4 linked regions of the Homo sapiens genome follow. The protein of the gene in region 4 purifies or fractionates together with the protein of the main gene of each other region. This does not show direct contact. Each region holds a gene or a part of one and is shown on either strand. Other genes may lie near its edges.

Region 1 (3,500 bases), on a different chromosome or scaffold from region 4:
AAAAAAAAAAGGCCAGGTTCGGTGGCTCACGCCTGTAATCCCAGCACTTTGGGAGGCCAAGGCAGGTGGATTGCCTGATGTCAGGAGTTCGAGACCAGCCTGGCCAACATGGTGAAACCCCGTCTCTACTAAAAATACAAAAACTAGCCGGGTGTCTTGGCGTGTACCTTTAATCCTAGCTTTTCAGGAGGCTGAGGCAGGAGAATTGCTTGACTCCAGGAGGCGGAGCTTGTAGTGAGCTGAGATTGTGCCATTTGCACTCCAGCCTGGGCAACAGAACAAGACTCCGTCTCAAAAAAAAAAAAAAAAAAAAGTCTGGGTGCAGTGGCTCACACCTGTAATCTCAGCACTTTGGGAGGCCGAGGCGGGCGGATCACGAGGTCAGGAGATCGAGACCATCCTGGCTAACACGGTGAAACCCCCTTGCTACTAAAAATTTAAAAAATTAGCCGGACGTGGTGGTGGGCGCCTGTAGTCCCAGCTACTCGAGAGGCTGAGGCAGGAGAATGGCATGAACCTGGGAGGCGGAGCTTGCAGTGAGCCAAGATTGCGCCACTGCACTCCAGTCTGGGTGACAGAGCGAGACTCCGTCTCAAAAAAAAAAAAAAAAAAAAAATAGAGTGCCCTTGCTGCTGAGTCATGTGTATCTTTCTGAGATCCAGTATCTTTCTGAGGTCCAGTGCTTTCATGAGAATCTCAAAGGACTCCCAACCACCCCGCCATGGGGATCCCTCCAAAACATCCTCTCTCCATGTTCCAGGGATGGGGCTGGCCTGGGGGGAAGGAGTTTGCTGTGACCAATACTCAGCAGGTACCTGTACATTGACAACCCCCTGCCTTTTCCAGACCACGTGACCAGAGAGAAGCTGGACCGCATTCTGGCCGTTATCCAAGGCTCCCATCAGAAGGCCCTGGTGATGTGAGTAGGGCCCTCAGGGAGGTACTGGGAGAGCAGTAAGTGCCCTTGGCTCCCGTAGGCTCCCCCAAACCTGGGGCAGATTCCATGGATCTTGTTTTTAGAGCCCAGAACCAGACGGGAGCTACCTGTTTCTTTCTTGGCATTAAGAAATGGTTCTGTGTGCCAGGTCTTGGGTTGGCCAACGGGAGGCCAAGAAGAGCAAGAGAACCAAGCTGTCCTGCTGAGAGTATATGATCTAATGGCAAGGAAACCAGGGACCACATCATTGGAGCACAGAGCCCAAGGGCAAGAGCAGCCAAGGAGTTAAGAGCTTGGGCTCTGGAGCCAGCTTGCCTGGGTTTCCTGACTCTACCAGGCACCTGGTGATGAAGGAGGGCAGGAAAGGTGGCTGGAGGAGCCACGGTGGCAGGGCACACAAAGCAAGTGAGGAGCTTCCAGAGAGGCACCTCATGTGGGGGAAAGGGTAGGTGGGCCACCCAGCTGCAGCCCCCTTCCTGATCTGCAGGTACTCCAACCTCGACCTGAAGACCCAGGAGGCCTATGAGATGGCCGTGAGAGGCCTGATCCGGCCCATGAACAAGTCCCCGATGCTGATAACTGGCATCCGATGCCTCTACTTTGCACCTCCGGAATTCCTCTTAGGTAGGTTGGCCAAGGAAGTTGGAGCAGTGAGATGGGACCCGTAGGTTTGGGAGTCACTCAGGAACGCTCTTGCAGAGGTCACTGTTGTCTGGCTCAGCTGAGGCCAGCACACGCCGGCCCTGATCTCTGCGGGCCAAGGCATCAGGTGCCGACTTCCTTCCCAGCCCTGGCCTGGACTTGGCTGATGACAGAGCTCGCAGAACAAAAGCTCTCCTATCTCTTGCCAAGTCACCCTTGGAAGCCAGACCTTACCAAGCAAAGGTTATATTTAGTGGCTTATTTCCAGAGCTGCCCATGTTTGAAGCTGTGAGGGCTCCATCAGACACAACTCTTACGTCCCCAGTCCCACCCAGCTCAGGCCCCTCTTATCTGTGTTCCTTTTGTCTCTGCCTGCGCCCGCCCCTTTTTTCTGTTGGTCATGTTAATGCCTGCTCCTCTGCTTGAGCACAGAACTCTGTTATTAAGATAACATCTTAATAACATTTTAAAGATAATCATTTATCTTTCTATAAATGATTTCTTTTACTCCTCATAACTCCCATTTTACAGATAGGGAAACCGAGTCTTAGTAAAAGGCAGGTTCTAACCTGGGCAAGATGGCGAGACCCTGTCTCTACAAAAAATAAAAAATTAGCCAGTTGTGATGGCTCAGAACGTCCCAGCTACTCCGGAGGCTGAGGCAGGTGGATCATGTGAGCCTAGGAGGTCAAGGCTGCAGTGATCTGTTATCACACCACTGCACTCCAGCCTGGGTGATGGAATGAGACCCTGTTGCCAAAAAAGGGCAGATTCTGACTTGGCAGGTCCCGGTGGGGCCTGAGGTTCTGCAAGTCTTAACACATTTCAGGTGGCACCCACAGGGCAGGTCCTCTGAATAGCACAACCTGGAGAGCTTAGGGGTCTTGCTAAGGTTGTTACACACCTAGGAGGTATCCAAGGGGTGTGCGTTCACAACCACACACTAGAGGCTGTGCTCTCACCACCATGTCTGTCATTGTGTGTCCCTGGCAGAGGTGCAGTGCATGCATGAGACGCAGAAAGAGCTGCGGAAGTTGGTTCATGAAATCGGCCTGGAACTAAAGACCACTGCTGTCTGCACCCAAGTGCGGCGCACGCGCGACGGCTTCTTCACGCTAGACAGTGCCCTCCTGAGGACCCAGTGGGACCTAACCAACATCCAGGATGCTATCCGGGCTGCTACCCCTCAGGTAGCTGCAGAGCTGGAGAAGAGCTTGAGCCCGGGGCTGGACACCAAGCAGCTCCCCAGTCCGGGATGGTCCTGGGACTCCCAGGGCCCGAGCTCTACCTTGGGGCTGGAGAGGGGTGCGGGGCAGTGAATGCCCAGGCAGCTCCTGGGGCAGTGGATGGATAAATAGAAGAACTGCTATGAGCTGGACCTGATAGCTGTGCAGAAAGTGAGAGCAGGGGCACCTTTTCTACGTAAGACACAAAACTCAAGCTGTAACAGAAAGGTCAATGGACTTGACCCAACTGAGAAGGAAAAACTTCTGTATGGAGGAAAAGACAGTAAACATGACAGACTGATAGAAAGTATTGGCAGACCAGGCGTGGTGGCGGGCACTTGTAATCCCAGCTACTCCCAAGGCTGAGGCAGGAGAATTGCTTGAGCCCAGGAGTTTAAGGTTGTAGTGCGCTAGACGGCGCCTGTGAATAGCCACTGCACTCTAGTCTGGGGAACATATGAGACCCCTGCCATCTCAAAAAAAAAAAAATTCTCAATAAACTATGTGCCCACGAAAATTAAAAATTAAAAAAAATTGTAAGTATTTGCAGTGTCATTAACCAAGGACTAATATCCATAGTATACAGAGAGCCCTTAGAAAGCAATAAGAAGACAACGACAAAATTAGGCAAATGAGATGAAGTGTGTATCAGAAGAAATCCAAATGGCTAGTAAGCCAGAAATGACACTCAACCT
Region 2 (3,500 bases), on a different chromosome or scaffold from region 4:
ATAAAACTTGGTATTTTGGTAATCATCAACCACATTCCCAAGATCCAGAGAGTTTGGTAAATGTTAACTTTCTTTCCAAAGTGGGAACATCATTGTGGCCACTCCAGGCCGCTTGGAGGACATGTTCCGGAGGAAGGCCGAAGGCTTGGATCTGGCCAGCTGTGTGCGATCCCTGGATGTCCTGGTGTTGGATGAGGCAGACAGACTTCTGGACATGGGGTTTGAGGCAAGGTACTGGACTTTGGACTTCACTGGCTTGAGTGGGCAGATGATACTAATACAAAAGGGGAGCAAAATGGAGTTTACTGTTTCATGACTAGGTATTTTTATTTTTTATTTTCATTTTTATTTATTTTTTATTTATTTGTTTATTAGAGACAGGGTCTTGTGCTGTCACCCAGGCTGGAGTGCAGTGGTGTGATTATGTTCACTGCAGCCTCAACCTCTCGGGCTCAGATGATCCTCCTGCATCAGCCTCCCGGGTAGCTGGGATTACAGGTGCACACCACCATGCCTGGATGGTTTTTTTATTTTTTGCAGATGAGGTTTTGCCATGTTGCCCAGTCTGTTCTCAAACTCCTGGACTTAAGTGATCCTCCTACCTAGGGTACCCAAAGTGCTAGGATTACAGGTGCCAGCCACCATGCCTGGCCTAAGTATTTTTATTAACCACATTTTAATTTCAAATCATTAAGTAGTTTGAGCTTTCAAATTCTACCACGTGATTTTATTCCAGTTCTATCTTTGATCTTAAAATGCACTTTCCTTCAAGTTTTTTTTTTTTTTTTTTTTTTGAGACAGGGTCTCACTCTGTCATCCAGGCTAGAATGCAGTGGCATGATTTCGGGTCATTGCGACCTTTACTTCCTGGGCTTAAGTGATCCTCCCACCTCAGCCTCCTGAGTCATCTGGGACTACAGGCACATGCCATCATGCTTTTTTTTTTTAATTTTTGGCAGAGACAAGATCCCATTATGTTGCCCAGGTTGGTCTCAAACTCCTGGGCTCAAGAGATCTTCCCATCCCAGTCTCCCGAAGTGCTGGGATTACAAGCATGAGCCATCACACCTGGCAGTTTTGTTGTTTTTTAATAAACAGCTTTATGGGATATAATTCACATATCATTATAATTGTATGCTAAAATTTGAGGAACCTTGGAAAAATGAAAGTATAAAGAAGAAACAAAGAATCACCTATAATCTCACCTCCCAGTGTATGTGCTATAAATATTTTGATGGCTTCACTTTCAGTCTTTTTGAATACCTGTTTAGTATCGTGAAGCACTGTGTGTTGATTCTGCTGGCAAGTGAGCGGTTAAGTGTGAGCCCTCTTTTTATCAGCATCAACACCATTCTGGAGTTTTTGCCAAAGCAGAGGAGAACAGGCCTTTTCTCTGCCACTCAGACGCAGGAAGTGGAGAACCTGGTGAGAGCGGGCCTCCGGAACCCTGTCCGGGTCTCAGTGAAGGAGAAGGGCGTGGCAGCCAGCAGTGCCCAGAAGACCCCCTCCCGCCTGGAAAACTACTACATGGTAAGCGCCTGGGCTTGCTTCTTACTCAGCGATAATGACCAGTGCTCATTTTATGGAAATTGTACTGGTAGAATAAATATGTGAGACCCTGTAGCACCTATGAAATGCATTTGGGGACAGAGCTAGCTAGGGCAAATGGCCTGAGTGGTCCTACTCATTGAATGAATAAGTTAAATTGGACATAAATGTATTTTAAGCACAGTCTCTAAGGACAGAGTCTCTGAACCTCCTACCCTCAAGTGACCAAATGTTTCTATTGTACATGCTTGGGGTGTGCTGGGTGCAGCCATGACTAAGCTCTGTAGTTCCTGGGCCCGTCAGAACAGCCTGTCTGACAGAGAAGGGCATAGTTAGATGTGCAGGTGGAACACAGAAAATCAAATGACAGACTCACTCCTAAGGAGACTTTGTGGGGTGGAAATGTTCTGCTCCGTAAATGTTGTGTATTTTTGACCTGCATCAAATATGCTGAGTTTCTTTTTTTTTTTTTTTTTTTTTTTTGAGACAGAGTCTGGCTCTGTCGCCCAGGCTGGAGTGCAGTGGCGCGATCTCAGCTCACTGCAAGCTCCGCCTCCTGGGTTCATGCCATTCTCCTGCCTCAGCCTCCCGAATAGCTGGGACTACAGGCGCCCGCCACCACGCCCGGCTAATTTTTTGTTAGCCCTGTTAGCCAGGATGGTCTCCATCTCCTGACCTGGTGATCCACCTGCCTCGGCCTCCCAAAGTGCTGGGATTACAGGTGTGAGCCACCGCGCCCGGCCGTTTTTTTTTGTTTGTTTTTTTTTGTTTTGAGACGGGGTCTCACCCTGTCACCCAGGCTGGAGTGCAATGGCACGATCTCGGCTCACTGCAACCTCTGCCTCCTGGTTCAAGCAATTCTTCTGCCTCAGTCTCCCGAGTAGCTGGGATTACAGGCATGTGCCACCATGCCCAGCTAATTTTTTGTATCTTTAGTAGAGGTGGGGTTTCACCACATTGGACAGGCTGGTCTTGAACTCCTGACCTCATGATCCTCCTGCCTCAGCCTCCCAAAGTGCTGGGATTACAAGAATGAGCCATCATGCCTGGCCCAAATATGCTGAATTTCTAGTAGTAAATACTGGCTGCTGGCTTCTGTAGTTTCTTCACAAAGAAGTAGATGGGCTTTTGGCAACTTGATTGTTTAGTAATGAGGCCACTCCTCACCCCTGTTCTGTTCTGTCCCATTGCTGGGATGGGCCAGGAGGCACAAATGTAGAGAGCACAGGCTGCAGGGGAGGCAGCACCATCAGGGCGAGGAGGCACCCACAGGCCAGTGCCACTGCTGACGGTACACTGGCCCACCAGCCCGGGGCTGGGGCTTTTCTTTCTCTTTTGCAATAAGCTTTCTCAGGTTAAATTTTTCGTTAGGCCTGGAGGGGTTCCCTAGCTCCTGAACATGTCTGCTGTTCAAAATGAAGGAGGCTGGTCTCGAAACCAGAATGTTCCTATTGCTGCAGACTGTGAGGTTGTCGAGGCTGCTCTCCGGTTTGTGTCAATTTGTAGGCAGATTAAAGGTAGAATGAGTTTGCAAATGAGAAACTGCACCTAGTGTAACTGGAGAGTGTTGTCAAAATCAGATAGGCTCATCAGAAGTGGGAGTTGTAGTTGCCATTGATGTTTCTGACAAGCTGGACTGGGTGAGGGAGGAGGCTAGCTCTTCCCAAGCAGAGGGAAGGACTCTGCATAGGGTAGTGTGGAGAGCATGGGCGCTAGAGCAGGACTGCCTGGTGCATATCTTGGCTTTGGCCCCTACCAGATTTAACCGATGAACTTAGAGGTCCTTACTTGTCAAATGGGGGCCACAGTAGTATACAGCTTCGTAGGGTTGCTGCAGGATTAATTAATTAATCCATGCAAAAATGTTCATGATAGTGCTTAGTACACAATAAGTATGGGTTGAGCATTCCTAACTTGAAATTCCAAAATCCAAAATCCTCCAAAATCTGAAG
Region 3 (2,855 bases), on a different chromosome or scaffold from region 4:
TAATATGTCATTAATAGGATGAAATTTTTGTGCCAATGGCAAAGTAGCCCCTGGTGGCCAACAACTCTCCCCCCACACCACCACATCCATAAAAAAAGAAGGGAGAAACACCGCAATCTGAGCAGTAGCTTTTGGACTTGAAAGAGTACACAACTCTCTAATGATGGAGTAACTTTGGTCCACTGGAGAAGTAAACGTATAATATCTGCTCATAAGCTAAATAAATGCTTTGAAGTGTTATTATATTTAGGAAATTAGTAATCGTTTAGGAGCACCAGAACCATTTGTGGTTTTGTCTGTTGTTGGGTGATAGTTTTTTTTTGTTTTTTGTTTTTTTTGTTTTTTTTTGCGATGGAGTCTGGCTCTGTCGCCAGGCTGGAGTGCAGTGGCGTGATCTCGGCTCAGTGCAACCGCCGCCTCCCGGGTTCAAGTGATTCTTCTGACTCAGCCTCCTGAGTAGCTGGGACTACAAGCGCCTGCCACCATGCCCAGCTAATTTTTGTGTTTTTAGTAGAGACGAGGTTTCACCATGTTGGCCAGGATGGTCTCAAACTCTTGACTTCGTGATCCGCCCACCTTGGCCTCCCAAAGTGCTGGGATTACAGGTGTGAGCCACCGCGCCCGGCCGGGTGATAGTTTTTTAAGCCAAGAATCACTGCATAGGAGTCATACTTCTAAAAAAAAATCTATCTAAAACCTCTTACATCTTCGTTATCCATAATATTGTGATCATGGGAATTTAGTTATCAGAACAAGGGCAGAATAGCAGAGACTGAGAAGGGAGATGTTCTGTTCCAAAAGCAAGCCAAACCCATGTTGAGGTACACCCTGTGCTTTTTTTAGTCACTCTTCTCATAGTACTTTGGTTTTCAACAATTGCTTTTCATAGTGTCCTTTCCAACTGATCTGTTACTGTTTCCACTTGAATATAGGGAAAGAGGCCTAGGGGTTATGTGAACGCATCCCGTGTTCACATTATATCTGTAACAGCCAAGAGGAGAGCTTGAGGCAGGCATAATATTGAAAGGGCTTCCTCTGAGCCTCATCGGGGAACCTCACAGGTCTCTCAGGCTTCAGGGCTGTAGCTCAAGTCTGGCCGGATCTCCCATTTGTCTCTTCTTTCTGTAGCTGGCTGTAGAGCCTTGCCTGCTTCTGACTCCTTTCTAAAGTTGCTGCCGCTTACTCTAGTTTTTAGGAGTTTTACTTTGAGGCAGGTAAGACATACTTTCCCTAGTTGCTCTCCCAGAGGTCAGATTCATTTCATTTTGATTCTAGTTAAGGGGAGGAGTGCAAATTTTAAAAAAGGGAGAGAGAGAGGTGTTACAGATTATGAAATCTTATACATTTTTATATAATAACATCTTAATCTCTAACATTGGTTCTCAAACTTGGTAGATATCAGAATCATCTAGAGGGCTTGTTAAGACAGATTTCTGGGTTCTGCTCTCAAAGTTGCTGATTAAGTAGTTTTGGGGTGAGGCTTGAGGATTTGCCTTTTTTTTTTTTTTTGAGATGGAGTCTTACTCTGTTGCCCAGGCTGGAGTGCAGTGGCGCGATCTCGGCTCACTGCAACCTCCGTCTCCTGGGTTCAACCAATTCTCCTGCCTCAGCCTCCTGAGTAGCTGGGATTACAGGCATGCGCCACCACGCCCAGCTAATTTTTGTATGTTTAGTAGAGACAGGGTTTTGCCATGTTGGCCAGGCTTGTCTTGAATTCCTGACCTCAGATGATCCGCCTGCCTCAGCCTCACTAAAGGCGTGAGCCACCACGCCCGGCCGAAGATTTGCTTTTTTAACACATTCTCCTCTGTCTCTGGAGCACTCAATCTTCTTTGCACACAGTATAGCCCTGAATTATTTTATTATTGTTTTGTATGTTGATTTTGAATCCCTTTTTCTAGTTTCTTCACAGAAAATATAGGATTTAAATCCTCTGGCATTTATCCTACTTACTGAACACATGGTCAGTACTTGGTATTGGTTAACCTATTAAAATTTTTGCCAAGTAAACTTTTTAATATTTCATCCTCCCGTGTGCAGTGTTTTTTAAAAACTTTTTTTTCTTTTCTAGGTATTTAATACAAGGCTGTTTAAGGTCAAAGAAAGACACTTGTTTCTTACCTATTTAGGAAGAGCACAGTATGATCCAGCAAAACCTAACTACATCTCTTTGGACAAACTAGTATCTATTCCTGATGAAATATTTTGTGAAGAGATTGCCAAAGCATCAGTACAGGACTTTGAAAAATTCTTAAAAACGCTTTAGATTTTTATGTATGTTAAAATGCAGTATTGTAAAGTGAATATATATATGAATAAATGAATATATTTTTAAATGCCTCGGGTCTCAACTGATATTGGAAACCATTTGATACTGTAAATTTGGGTACATATACTGTGGTAGAACTTTCATCAAGTTCCTAGTGACTTAATTCTTGTTTGACTTTTTCCTTCCTTCTTAGGAAATACAGCAAGCTCAGAGAAGGGGAAAGAGTTGGTTTACTTTAAGTTGGTGCTTTGTCATTCTCGTGAAGATGAAAACAGTGGAGGATTTTTAAAGTGGTTTCATTATAAAATGGCTTTATTTCCTTTGAACTGTTACGAGTTTCCAGAGCATACTACATTAGTCATCTAATATCTACTGCTCAGATAATGCTACAAAACACACTTCATTTTGGATTATCTACATTGTTAACTTCTTGAACACAGATATTCACAGTTGGCTAAGAATAAGGAAAAGGAAAGTGGAGTTTAAAGATTAGGGGCAATGAGATATAGTGAAAGGCTTAACTAGCCTTTGACTTATTACCAGTAAACAAATATTTGTTTTCCATTTACAACATGTGTTATCCTGG
Region 4 (4,042 bases):
AATTCTGACGGACGTTTAGTAACCCAGCACAAGTGCGGCTAATGGTGGTTGACACAGGCACCCAAGGCGGATGGGCCGTTGTGAAGAAGAGCCAGAGAAACATGGCGGAGCGCACTGCTAAGGATTACAGCAAAGGCCTTCAAAGACGGCCGGTTCTTCCCCTCAGAAAGCTAACCTAGCTCTTACCTGGTGAACAAAGACATCTTCCTTGGTGTCATTCCTGCAGAACAGGATGGGTCGTTAAGGAAGGGACTTCAACAAAGCCCTCAGCTCCTCACTGAGGTCCCCCTAGATGCCCAGTCTAAGCTCAGTGGGCCCATCCTCTCCAGCATTCCAGTTAGGGGTGGACATGGCCTGGGGAATGGGAGGGAGAGCCAGCAGGGCCCCCAGAAGCTGGTGTAAAGAGAGATACACCTAAAACCTCAGTGCCAAACCTGGACTTCACAAGGAAAGGGCAGGCTGGGGAGGCAAAGGCACCTTGAGGAACCTCAGACAGCTCTGCCCCTGCCGGGACTCCACCTTCCACCCCAGGCTAGCCTTACAACCTGCCAGCGCTGGGTGCAACTGTCCCTGGCCAACACCCCCTCCCCCAACCCCCATCAGGGTTGGAAAATTCCAGTCTTCTTCCTTCTATAGTCAAGGAGGCAGAAAGTGCAGATGGGGCCAGAGGGGCAGAACAAGTTTGAGAAGGGAACAATGTGTCAGGAACTTGCTCTAAACAGCTGCCAAACTTTATTCTCATCCTCAGCCTGGAGGTGAATCCCAGAGTCAGGACCACTCTCAACACGCGTGGGACCAAGGGTGAGAGAGAAGAAAACATTCACCCATTCTCTATCATAAGAACCCCAGTGGGTGGGGGGAGGGGAGAAAGGAAAAGTTTTCCTGGAGGCACTCTGCCCCCGACCCAGTCTGCCATTTCCAGAATTAGACAGGGACCCTTCCCCAGAACAAACGTTTTAGCTTTAAAGCACTTGGATCTGCACAAAGGTCAGCCTGCTAAGAGGGAACTAGGGCCTCCCAGGAGAGCCAGGCCGGGCAGGATGCCTGGGCTGGGGAAGGGCCCACTGGGGGAGACCTGGCTCTGCTCAGAATCCACTGCCACAGCCTCTCCCGGTGCTGAGGGGTGGGGCTGCCTACTGAAGGAAAGCAGCAGCCTCTGGCTCCTTCCTCCTGACCCCCACTGTCAGCCTCAGTCCCAACAGGTGGAGGGCTCGAATGAGCCACAGCTCTTTAAGGGAGTTGAGTTGTGAGTGCTGCCATAACAGGAAATCAGTTGAGGATTCCAGCCGGGGGCCCTGAGGCACAGAGAACCCTATAATACATTCTGCCCCAAAGGCATGTCAGAGTAAAAGTAATGAAGCAATTCCAGAAGGTGAGATGAGAAGCTGGCAGGGTCAGAGCCAGGTTTGCCAAGTTCCTGAATCATTAATCCTCCGCTACCCTTGAAGATGCGGAGGAGGCTTCCTCTTGTCACGAAGCACACATTTGTGCTGCGGTTAAAGGCTTTCAACCAGCATCAGCTGGACATTGCAACCATGTGCCTCCGCAGGGGTCGATGAGGTTGGGCGGGTGTCCAGTCCCACAGGCCAGCTGGGAAGACACCCATTCCACCCCCGCCCTGGGTTCCTTGGATACCTGTTGATGAATCCGTAACCATTCCGGACGTTGAACCATTTGACAGTGCCCAGGACTTGGATTGCTGCCAGGCAGAGATGCAGTGGGGACAGTGAGATGGGGGGAAGAGATGGAGTTGAACTCAGTTTTGAGACACTCCAAAACAAAAAAAAATCTAGCCTACTGCCTTATTACCTATTCAGGTTACCTTCAAGCCAACCAGGTTTCACTAGTAGCTTCAAGGTATTCCTACCCTAGTCCACCAAATGAAATCACCCACACAGGGACTCAGGCTTTCAAAAAGCCTTCCAACTCTAAGTCACGTTCCCCACATCCTACAAATCCAGCCCCTTCACCTAGAACTGGGTACTCACCTGGTCTGCAAAGTGCCGCCCCCAGGTCATAACTGAGGGTTTTTCTAGCCCTCCCAATGCAAGGGTCCCCAGTGCACCTGCTTGCCAGGCTCAGAGGTTTGCCTAGTTCTAACCCAGTCAACTAGGCACTGTGTCCCGCCCGGGGGCGTGGCCGGACCCTGGGGCTTTATTCTCCACCCCAAGACCTTAGCTGAACCTGCCGGCCCCGCCCTCTCTCCCAGGAAGGTACGGCAGGATTTCCCACCAGGGGAATCCACTTTGGTGCGCAGCTCCCAGCCCAGTTAGCGCTCTGGGCCTGCGGGCCAGGCCGCCTTTGGTTTTCCGGATCCTGCCGGGCTCCACACTGCCCCTCCCCCAGCCCGCCGACCCCTCAGAGCCGCCCTGTGCGCGCCTGCCCCTCACCCAGCACCGGCTTGTCCGCCTGACTCCGGGCCGGGGGGGCGGGGGTTCCCGAGACCGCCGTCGCCGGATTGCCAGGGGTGCGGGAGCCCGGCGCCGAGGGGGTCCCAGCAGCGGGGCCCGAGGCGGCTCCGCCCCCGCCGCCCGCCCCGCCGCCTTTCTGCGGCTCCCCTGCGGGCACCGGTACCACCACCGCTACCACCCCTGCCGCCGTCGCGGGCACCGTCGCCGCGGGGACCGCTGTAGCCCCCGCTGCCGCCTCCACCTCGCTCATCCCGCCGGGTCCAGTACCGGCCACAGCCGCCACCGCCCCGGCCCCTCCCCCCGGCTCGCGAACCCACCGCCCTGCTCGGTCCTCGCGCCCCGAGCCTCGCCCACACGCCGGCAGCGGGCCCGGAGCCGAGGCCAATGGCAGCCCGCTGCCGCCGCTCGCGCAGACCCCGCCTCCCGACCACGGGCCAATCCCAGCCCAGCAGCACCCCCGGACCGCACGCCGACCCCGCCTCCCGGACTTCGCACCGCGGCCCCGGCCCCCGCCAGCCGCCCAGTAAGTACACCTGGGCCCCGCCCCCTGGCCGCCACGTGACGGCCCCCGGCCCAACCCATTGGCCGGCGGCCCCTTTCCCCTCCCCCCTCCGCCCCTTTCCACCGGCCGCGGGAAATCAAACGGGCCGGTCGCGCCCCAACCGCCACCTGGCCTCTGCGGGAAGGGCGGGGCCGGGGCCGCAGTGCCAAGGTTGCCCCTAACGACCTGAGCGAGGGGCGGGAATCTGCAGCCTCGGTTCTGGCAGTGAGTAGCACCGCTCGCCTCCACCCTCGAGACCGACCTTGCCCGTATGCTGCCAGGTGCAGACGCCTTCCGGCCACCACCGCCCTTGGCACCCTCTCCCCACAGGACGGCCCTGCACACCCTGGGGCTGCGGGATCCAACCGCAGGATAGGCTGGAAAGCGCAGCAGAATGGTTTTCCCGGCTCACACTTGCTCCCATGAGCCAGGACCCCCTACTTTTCTTTTTTCTTTCTTTTTCTTTTCTTTTCTTTTTTTTTTTTTTTTTGAGACAGGGTCTCGCCCTGTCGCCCAGACTAGAGTGCAGTGGCGCGATCTCGGCTCGCTACAACCTCCGCCTCCCTGGTTCAAGCGATTCTCCTGCCTTGAGCCACCTCAAGGTGGCTCCCGGCCTGCCCCTACCTATGTTTGTATTGGAAACAAGGTTTACAAGTAGTACAATGCGCAATTCTTCTTCGCTGAGTTTGTTTGTTTGTTTGTTTTGACACAAGGTCTCCCTCTGTCGCCCGGGCTGGAGCGCAGTGCGCGATCTGGGCTCACTGCAGCCTCTGCCTCCCGGGTTCAAGCGATTCTCCCTCCTCAGCCTCCTGAGTACCTGGAATTACAGGCTTGCGCCACCACAACCTGGCTAATTTCTGTATTTTTAGTAGAGATGGGGTTTCACCATATTGGCCAGGCTGGTCTCGAACTCCTGACCTCTGGTGATCCGCCCGCCTCAGCCTCCCAAAGTGTTGGGATGACAGGGTAAGCCACCGTGCCCGGCCTTCGCTGAGTTTTGATCAATGTGTCCACCCATGTGGCCCATACCGACCGCTGCAGCTCTGATGTCTACCGCCCTAGACTGGCTTTGGGGTCTCTCACGTCTGTA

The links.
Region 1: the proteins of YBX2 (region 4) and TRUB2 purify together in Homo sapiens (co-immunoprecipitation; 2 studies listed by BioGRID and IntAct, with this or other methods). This does not show direct contact.
Region 2: the proteins of YBX2 (region 4) and DDX55 purify together in Homo sapiens (co-immunoprecipitation; 2 studies listed by BioGRID and IntAct, with this or other methods). This does not show direct contact.
Region 3: the proteins of YBX2 (region 4) and MTERF3 purify together in Homo sapiens (co-immunoprecipitation; 2 studies listed by BioGRID and IntAct, with this or other methods). This does not show direct contact.

What each region holds. Positions count from the first base shown.
Region 1 is NC_000009.12:128,308,948-128,312,447, reverse strand, and holds part of TRUB2 (pseudouridylate synthase TRUB2, mitochondrial), read left to right. Parts: intron 1-846; coding exon 847-919; intron 920-1,424; coding exon 1,425-1,561; intron 1,562-2,572; coding exon 2,573-2,898; 3' UTR 2,899-3,500. UniProt on the Homo sapiens protein: Minor enzyme contributing to the isomerization of uridine to pseudouridine (pseudouridylation) of specific mitochondrial mRNAs (mt-mRNAs) such as COXI and COXIII mt-mRNAs.
Region 2 is NC_000012.12:123,608,599-123,612,098, forward strand, and holds part of DDX55 (ATP-dependent RNA helicase DDX55), read left to right. Parts: intron 1-81; coding exon 82-231; intron 232-1,340; coding exon 1,341-1,530; intron 1,531-3,500. UniProt on the Homo sapiens protein: Probable ATP-binding RNA helicase. Has ATPase activity and is involved in the maturation of precursor large subunit rRNAs.
Region 3 is NC_000008.11:96,238,902-96,241,756, reverse strand, and holds the end of MTERF3 (transcription termination factor 3, mitochondrial isoform 1 precursor), read left to right. Parts: intron 1-1,901; coding exon of another isoform or gene 1,902-1,928; exon of another isoform or gene 1,929-1,963; intron 1,964-2,071; coding exon 2,072-2,266; 3' UTR 2,267-2,355; downstream 2,356-2,855.
Region 4 is NC_000017.11:7,291,840-7,295,881, forward strand, and holds the start of YBX2 (Y-box-binding protein 2), read right to left. Parts: upstream 2,801-4,042; 5' UTR 2,662-2,800; coding exon 2,391-2,661; intron 1,700-2,390; coding exon 1,636-1,699; intron 221-1,635; coding exon 187-220; intron 1-186. UniProt on the Homo sapiens protein: Major constituent of messenger ribonucleoprotein particles (mRNPs). Involved in the regulation of the stability and/or translation of germ cell mRNAs. Binds to Y-box consensus promoter element.